Regions from separate parts of the Homo sapiens genome. Here all the other regions are linked to region 3. Evidence: fine-mapped expression QTL. A gene starts in region 3. Each other region holds a variant in brackets. All regions are shown on one strand. Distances are from middle to middle.

What was found. PIP is the estimated chance that this variant, and not a neighbour inherited with it, causes the effect.
Region 1: its variant is fine-mapped to the expression of ADM2 in whole blood (TOPMed, PIP 0.98).
Region 2: its variant is fine-mapped to the expression of ADM2 in whole blood (INTERVAL, PIP above 0.99).

What each region holds. Positions count from the first base shown.
Region 1 is chr22:50,458,804-50,461,553 of GRCh38, reverse strand. It overlaps SBF1 (SET binding factor 1), which reads left to right. Exons shown (of 41, transcript NM_002972.4): 22 at 1-31; 23 at 268-395; 24 at 842-1,020; 25 at 1,146-1,282; 26 at 1,395-1,602; 27 at 1,888-2,084; 28 at 2,162-2,299. Among named protein-coding and RNA genes, the nearest start is that of SBF1, 15 kb to the left of the region's middle. The variant C/T (reference allele first, on the strand shown) is at 1,364.
Region 2 is chr22:50,446,043-50,448,792 of GRCh38, reverse strand. It overlaps SBF1 (SET binding factor 1), which reads left to right. Exons shown (of 41, transcript NM_002972.4): 37 at 143-250; 38 at 349-560; 39 at 1,184-1,271; 40 at 1,340-1,471; 41 at 1,553-2,750. The coding sequence ends at 1,651. Among named protein-coding and RNA genes, the nearest start is that of SBF1, 28 kb to the left of the region's middle. The variant TGG/G (reference allele first, on the strand shown) is at 1,327.
Region 3 is chr22:50,479,895-50,482,644 of GRCh38, reverse strand. It overlaps ADM2 (adrenomedullin 2), which reads right to left and starts at 1,102. Exons shown (of 3, transcript NM_001253845.2): 1 at 882-1,102; 2 at 688-808; 3 at 1-78. The coding sequence starts at 797. RefSeq lists silencers at 856-975, 1,026-1,315.

The DNA of each region.
Region 1 (2,750 bases), 21 kb after region 3:
ATCTTCACGGGGATGCCCACGGACCCCCTGGGTGAGCCTGCAGACTCTCTGGCCCTGTCGCCCCCTCTCCCCCAGGTCTTTGGGATGGATGGGCTTTCCCTGCCTCCCTCTCCCTTTTCTCGGGGGTTCTGGGTGCCCGTGGGAAACGGGCCTTTGTCTGCTCCTTCCCCACCCACTTGGGATTCCCCATAACTGTGGTACCCTGAGATTCTGGGACCCCCCCCCCCTTACCTTCCTTGCTTCTGACTCTGCCTGGCCTGTCCTAAGTTGGGGAGCAGGTGGTGGTCCGCTCCTTCCCGGTGGCTGCGCTGACCAAGGAGAAGCGCATCAGCGTCCAGACCCCTGTGGACCAGCTCCTGCAGGACGGGCTCCAGCTGCGCTCCTGCACATTCCAGGTGGGGCGCGGTGCGCGGGTGGGGCTCTCATCCCCCGCCCTGGTCTTTCTCCTGCAAACCGGTCTTTCTTGTATGAACCATTTTTAGGCCAGTCTCCAGCAGTGGCCCTGTTGTTACGCTTGCATGTCTGGGGCCCTCACTGTGGCTCTTGAGTTGATGTCCACTGTTTGATGTGCGGTCTTTGGGTCCTTGTCCTTTCCTTGGGGCGCCGGCCCTCAAGTCCGTGTCTTGGGTGTGCCTTGCAAACCCAGGCCTCAGCTCACAGCCACTGAGATTTCGAGTTTACACAAGCGCTTGCCTTCGTGTGACACAGATACAGGCCTTTGCCTGGGGCCTGCTTCTCTCTCTGTCATGGCTGCGAGGGGAAGGGGAGCCTGGCAGTGTCAGAGTTGGGGGAGGGGCTGGGGGGCCACCCACACCCCTAAGGGCTGCTTTTACTGACACAGCTGCTGAAAATGGCCTTTGACGAGGAGGTGGGGTCTGACAGCGCCGAGCTCTTCCGTAAGCAGCTGCATAAGCTGCGGTACCCGCCGGACATCAGGGCCACCTTTGCGTTCACCTTGGGCTCTGCCCACACACCTGGCCGGCCACCGCGAGTCACCAAGGACAAGGGTCCTTCCCTCAGGTATGGATCTGGGTCCCAGGCAGGGCAGCTGGGCCTCAGCCGTGTTCCCGCTCCAACCCTCCTAGGCCCCTGTGCTCATCTTTGTCCCTCCTCCTCTCACCTTTGCTGACTCTCGTGGGCCTCAGAACCCTGTCCCGGAACCTGGTCAAGAACGCCAAGAAGACCATCGGGCGGCAGCATGTCACTCGCAAGAAGTACAACCCCCCCAGCTGGGAGCACCGGGGCCAGCCGCCCCCTGAGGACCAGGAGGACGAGATCTCAGGTGGAGGGGTGGGGGTGGAGTCCTGGGTGGTCTCTGGATGCTGACATTGGCCAGGGAGGATCAGGGCAGGCGGAGTGGCCC[C/T]GTGATGACCACGTGTGCCCGGCCTGTGCAGTGTCGGAGGAGCTGGAGCCCAGCACGCTGACCCCGTCCTCAGCCCTGAAGCCCTCCGACCGCATGACCATGAGCAGCCTGGTGGAAAGGGCTTGCTGTCGCGACTACCAGCGCCTCGGTCTGGGCACCCTGAGCAGCAGCCTGAGCCGGGCCAAGTCTGAGCCCTTCCGCATTTCTCCGGTCAACCGCATGTATGCCATCTGCCGCAGGTGAGGGCCGGCCAGGGCTGGCCCGGGTGGTGGACACGTGACTGGGTGTCTTCCCTGCCCGCTGTGGGCCTGGGCCACGGCTTCTGGTCATGTAAGGAATGTGGAGGGGGAGACTCCGGGCAGAGGGACGGGCCACAGGGCTGGGGGGTGGCTGGGGGGCCCCGTGGCTGAGCTGGAAGCGCCTCCTGCTGGGAGCCATGGGCTGGCTCCTCTTGCCCTGCTTGGGGCGTGAGCCTGGAGGCGGGTGGGGTCGCCAGCCACCTTCACGCCTCTGCCTCCTCTCAGCTACCCAGGGCTGCTGATCGTGCCCCAGAGTGTCCAGGACAACGCCCTGCAGCGCGTGTCCCGCTGCTACCGCCAGAACCGCTTCCCCGTGGTCTGCTGGCGCAGCGGGCGGTCCAAGGCGGTGCTGCTGCGCTCTGGAGGCCTGCATGGCAAAGGTGTCGTCGGCCTCTTCAAGGCCCAGAACGCACCTTCTCCAGGTACCTCCTGCGTCCTGCCCTGTGCCTGCCCTGCCCTATCTCACCCTCCCCTCCCTCAGCTCCGTGTCCTCCCCCAGGCCAGTCCCAGGCGGACTCGAGTAGCCTGGAGCAGGAGAAGTACCTGCAGGCTGTGGTCAGCTCCATGCCCCGCTACGCCGACGCGTCGGGACGCAACACGCTTAGCGGCTTCTCCTCAGCCCACATGGGCAGTCACGGTGAGGGTGCTTGTGGGCAGACGGTGGGGCAGGGGCACTTTGGGGGGCCGTGGTGGCATTTATGGTTTGGCAGGCAGGCCAGGGAGGAGCAGAAACGGCGCTGGTCATGGATGTTTGGGTGTGGGATGAGGAGCATGCCCTCCGGGTGCCGTGGGGCAGGGGCGGGAAGCCTGTCCAGACCAAGTGTGTGCCCAGACCAGGTGTGTGCCCTGACCTCCTGCCCGCCCTGACGTCCTGCCCGCTCTCCACCTCTGCGTCTGCTGCAGCTTCCTGTAGGGTCCTCCGGGTGCTGCCTCTACGCGGCTCTGTCTTACCATTTCCCACAGCCTGGAAACATCCCAGATGCTCCTCTGTCCTGTTCCCTCCCAGTGTCACTGTTTTTCCTCATCCCCCACACTCCACCCTCCCTGCATCCCCCAATCCAGACTGTCTTTGGAGCCTCTGGCCTGGC
Region 2 (2,750 bases), 34 kb after region 3:
CTCTTGCCACCTCCCCCTGTGGCCAGTCACACACGCGTTAGGCCTTTCCGTTGTGTCTCTTTCCTGTGTTTTCCTTTTGTCTTTTCGTGCTCTAGTCTGGATATTTCCTTTTGAATAAACTTGCCATTAATTCTTCCCCCAGGAGCTGCAGAGGCTGGAGACAGAGTTGGGCCAACCCGCTGAGCGCTGGAAGGACACCTGGGACCGGGTGAAGGCTGCACAGCGCCTCGAGGGCCGGCCAGACGGCCGTGTGAGTGAGGGCCAGTGTGAGCGTCCACGGTGGGCGTGTTGCTGGGAGAAAGTGGAGTCTGTCCAGCCCTGACCCAAGTCCCAACCTCCTGTTCCCAGGGCACCCCTAGCTCCCTCCTTGTGTCCACCGCACCCCACCACCGTCGCTCGCTGGGTGTGTACCTGCAGGAGGGGCCCGTGGGCTCCACCCTGAGCCTCAGCCTGGACAGCGACCAGAGTAGTGGCTCAACCACATCCGGCTCCCGTCAGGCTGCCCGCCGCAGCACCAGCACCCTGTACAGCCAGTTCCAGACAGCAGAGAGTGAGAACAGGTATGAGGGCACCTCCCACTGCCACATGGACACCTCTGAGCTGGTGTTCTGGGGTCCCAGGCAGTCCTCTGGTGGGAGATTGCGGGTGCTTTTGAGGAGCTTGCTTAAGTATACACCACCACTGGGAGGGGTTTGGGGTGTCGAACTGGTGACCACAGCTGACCACAGCCTGCAGTGGCTGAGGGAGGAGTAGAGAGAGGGCAGTGGTGGGGCCCCCGTGAGTCTGGAGTCTGGCAGGATCCATCCCAGGCAGCTGCTGCCGTGGCTGCTTCTACAGATCTACCTGCCTGGCCATCCCTCTCCTCGTAAGGGCGCCTGCCCTGTGTAGGGGGCTGCTTTCCCAAGACCCTGAGGCTCTGGTGTGGGGATGCTCCCTGGAGTCTGGAGGGTGTGAGGCGCCCTTCACTGTCTCCTTTCTGGGCGTCGTCTTCTTGGGCCTGCAGCCCCCCATCAAAGGCTTCTTTGTGGCCCCCTGGCCAGTGCTCTGGGCTTAGGTCAGTTCTGGGGACAGGGTGCCTGGTCTTACCTCCTGGGCTGGGACAGCAAGGGGGGGACGACTGCTGGGGCCTGGGCTTGGCTGGGCCATGACGGTCAGCCTGGCCCTGGTTCTGCTGGAAATGCAGGTCCTACGAGGGCACTCTGTACAAGAAGGGGGCCTTCATGAAGCCTTGGAAGGCCCGCTGGTTCGTGCTGGACAAGACCAAGCACCAGGTGAGTGATCAGGTGGTGGGGGGGACTCACGGGGGAGGGGGCTCCGCTGACTCTG[TGG/G]CCTCCTCCAGCTGCGCTACTACGACCACCGTGTGGACACAGAGTGCAAGGGTGTCATCGACTTGGCGGAGGTGGAGGCTGTGGCACCTGGCACGCCCACTATGGGTGCCCCTAAGACTGTGGACGAGAAGGCCTTCTTTGACGTGAGCCTTGGCCGGGGCTTGGGAGAGGGGAGGGGCTCTGCGGTGTGGGGGCTGCGGAGTCAGTAACCCGCCCTTCCCCAGGTGAAGACAACGCGTCGCGTTTACAACTTCTGTGCCCAGGACGTGCCCTCGGCCCAGCAGTGGGTGGACCGGATCCAGAGCTGCCTGTCGGACGCCTGAGCCTCCCAGCCCTGCCCGGCTGCTCTGCTTCCGGTCGTTACCGACCACTAGGGGTGGGCAGGGCCGCCCCGGCCATGTTTACAGCCCCGGCCCTCGACAGTATTGAGGCCCCGAGCCCCCAGCACTTGTGTGTACAGCCCCCGTCCCCGCCCCGCCCCGCCCGGCCGGCCCTAACTTATTTTGGCGTCACAGCTGAGCACCGTGCCGGGAGGTGGCCAAGGTACAGCCCGCAATGGGCCTGTAAATAGTCCGGCCCCGTCAGCGTGTGCTGGTCCAGCCAGCGGCTGCAGGCGAGTTTCTAGAACCAGAGTCTATATAAAGAGAGAACTAACGCCACGCTCCTGTGCCTGCCTTCCCCACTCCCCGGCTGCCTGCTCTCGGCCTACCCAGAGGGTCCCATCTGCCCCTATCCAGGCCCACCTGGCGGGAGGTTGGCATCTTTCTCGTGAGCCTCTCCTGGTGCCTGGGTCCACCCAGCTCGGCCTGCATGTCCCTGGGAGTGACTTTGCTCTGGGGGCGGATCGAGCAGGAGGCTTCACTGGGGACTTGCTTGATTCCCTCCACGCCTCAGGGCTGGTCTAGGGGCCGGCACGGCTGGAGAGGAAGCCCCCATCCCTACCCAGGGGATGCAGAAGCTGACCTCACAGAGGCTTGGGGGTGAAAGGGTGGGTGGTCATTTGACCCCAGAAGGCTGTTGCAGGTCCAGAGGACACTTGAGGTGGACGTCAGTTTCTGGCTAGACCCGAGCTGAAGGGATGGAGGCCGGAGGCGGGGGGGGGGGGGGGACAGTGGGCTCCCAGGGGAATGCAGGTTGACCACATCTGGCTCCTGCCAGGCAACGAGCAGCATCTGGCAGAGTAAGGGGCCAACGCCCATGGGGGATGGACCCTCTCAGTTCTTGGGAATTCTGCCCCAAAAGTCCTTTCCCTGGGGTCTCAGAGGGCCCCCGTCCTTCCCTTCTTGGTGTCACTGTGGCCCCTCACTGCTCTTTTCCTATTCAAACCTGAGTCCCACCAGGCCCAGGGCTTCACCTGCTGAGCTGTTGTGTCCTTGCCTGTGACGAGGCCTGGCCAGGGGTGCAGGAGCAGAAGGTGGGGAG
Region 3 (2,750 bases):
TGAAGCTTCCAGACCACAGGTCGGGGTGCGGGGTGCCTGGGCTGCAGGCTGCTGGAAGGGCTCCGGGCTGGGGGCTCCCTGCAGAGGCAGATGGAGAATGTCAACCAGATGGCTCAGCCTTTTGGAGAACTCACACCTGCCCACTTTTGCCTCTACACAGGCCTGGGTCACTGCCAGGGGAAGCCCACAGCCCCCATCCACACACAGCCTGGAGCACGGCCAGGGGAAGCCCGCGTCCCCTCTGGGCTTGGGCCTGGGACCATCTCAGTGGCCCGGGTCACGTGTCCCGGGAACCGGCACCTCCTTGGCCAAAGGGCACCCCGGCGGCCCAGCCTCTGCGGGTCACCACTCTCAGGGCTCAGGGTGACTCGGCTTCTGCCCTCCCTTTAGGGTGGTCACAGGCCGGCCAGGGATACCGCCAGCCTCCCCTCCCCCAGCAGACACCCCCAGAAGAGGGGCTGCTGTGCCCATGTGTGTGGGGAGGAGCAACTGCCCTGTGTAGGGAGGCAGAGAAAGAGGGGCCTCTGGCCCTGCTCAGGCGCTCCTGAGCCTGGGGTAGGGGCCTTTGTTTGGGAGGGGAGTCCTAGCAGCAGGTGGAGGCGTGGAGGGAGGGCGGCCCCGCGGCCCCCGGCACTCTGCTTCCCTGCGGGGGCCAGAGGGGTTGGCTGGCCCAAGACCTGGACTCACCTGGGTTTGACGGGTCGCGGGTCCCCGCCCAGGCTGCGGGACAGCGAGCCAGGGAGCTGCAGGCAGAGGAGGCTGATGCAACCCAGGGCGGCCGTCGGGATCCGGGCCATGGCGGGCGGGGCTGCAGGGGAGGGGGCGGTGAGCCGGGCACGTCGGGGGCAGCCTGAGCCGCGAGCCACCCCCTCCGCCGGCACCTCGGGGAGTCCTCCGCGGTCGGGGCGCCGGGCGTGGGCGTGGCAAGCTGGGCACGGGCGTCCGTCGGGGCGCAGGCCTCGGGCGCGAAGCGGGCAGCGGGTCTGGGGTCGGCCGCGGGTCCGGGGCGCAAGGCGGAGCGGGCTGGGCGGGTTGGGGGTCCTGCCTGGAGCGGAGTCGCGGCCCGGGATGGCACCTCCAGGGCTGAATACGTAGCCTTTCCAGCAAGGGGCGGAGCCGGATGCACGGACGGGGCGGGGCGCCCCTCCTCCGGGCCCAGCCACCCTCGGGGCGGGGAGGGGGCTGCGGCGAAGGGAGCGGTGGAGGGGCCTGTCCCCGCTGGGAGCGCTCGGCGACCGGCCCGGGACCGCGGGACCGCCAGCCTCACTCCAAGCGCCTTCTGGTGGGGACGCAGCCCCGAGCCTGCGGGGGCCGGACTTCCCCACGCTGCAGCGGGGTTCTGGGGGGCGAACCGTCGTCCGAGCTGATCCCACGGCTGGGGCGGACTCGGACCCGACGGGGCCCACCCCGTCAACCACCTCCCGAGTCCGGGCGGTCCCACCCTCCAGGGTCTGACCCGGTGGACCCCGGCCCCCCAGCCTGACCAGCAAGTCCGCGGGATTCCGCAGCGGGCTGGCCATTCCGCTCTCCTCTGACGCGGTGCCGCCGACCCCGGGGCTGCGCTCCTAAAAGGCTGTACCGACCCTCGGCCGCTCCAACCCCGGACCAAAGTATTGCACGGTTTTTGTAACAGATTTAAAGTGTCCGGGCGCGGTGGCTCACGCCTGTAATCCCAGCAGTTTGGGAAGCCGAGGCGGGCGGATCACGAGGTCAGGAGATCGAGACCATCCTGGCTAACAAGGTGAAAGGCCGTCTCTACTAAAAATACAAAAAATTAGCCGGGCGTGGTGGCGGGTGCCTGTAATCTCAGCTACTCGGGAGGCTGAGGCAGGAAAGGCTGAGGCTTGAATCCAGGCGGCGGAGGTTGCAGTGAGCCGACATCGCGGCATTGCACTCCAGCTTGGGCGACAGAGCGAGACTCCGTCTCAAAAAAAGAAAAAAAAAAAAGAAAAAGAAAAATTTAAAACGAGTGAAACGTGAGACTCCCCTCACCATTGCCACCCACTTGGGACCCCTACCCTGGTCTGGGGGGGAGCCCTCTCCTGACTTGCCCTGGGCACACCTAGGTGTGGCTATGTGAGGCACACACATCCATGTGTGCAGATTTGCAGTAGGACTGAGACCCCGTTCTTTCCTGAGAGCTTGTTTGGAGGTCCTGGCAGAGGAGCGCAGCTACTCGAAGCCCGGTCCTCCATCCTCTTCGATGGAGCGTGCAGCTTCGGAGGGACGCACAGGGAACAGTGGGGAAGGAGGGGGACACCTGCCTCTGAGCCAGCCACATCAGCCGAATCAACACTGGTGACCAGTGGGGTGACAGGCGTCACAGCCCGACCGTCCTCACATCAGAGACCCCACTCTTTCCTATGGTTGGATCTACTCCAACATATAGGTGTTGTATGATTCATCTCATCTGCTATTAATATGAAATTAGGTGACTGCCAGTCTTTTCATGAGTTGCTGCCTTGAGCTCACAGATGTGTCTATAGGACACCTTCCTGGAAGTAGAAATTCTGGTTGAAGGTGAGCATGTGTTTATGTTGATAGATGGTTCACTGTTCTCCACAGAGCTTTCGCCTACCCACTGTCCACGAGTCCTGGACTTGGTGTCACGGGTTCCAAGCTGCTGAGACTGGCCTCTCTGTTGGGTGAGCTGAGGATCTCTGCGTCCGTTCGTGCTTCCCCTTCTGTCTCCCCAACCCCTGCGCTCACCCCGTAACCCTCCTGCTGACACACCATGGGAGCACAGTCAA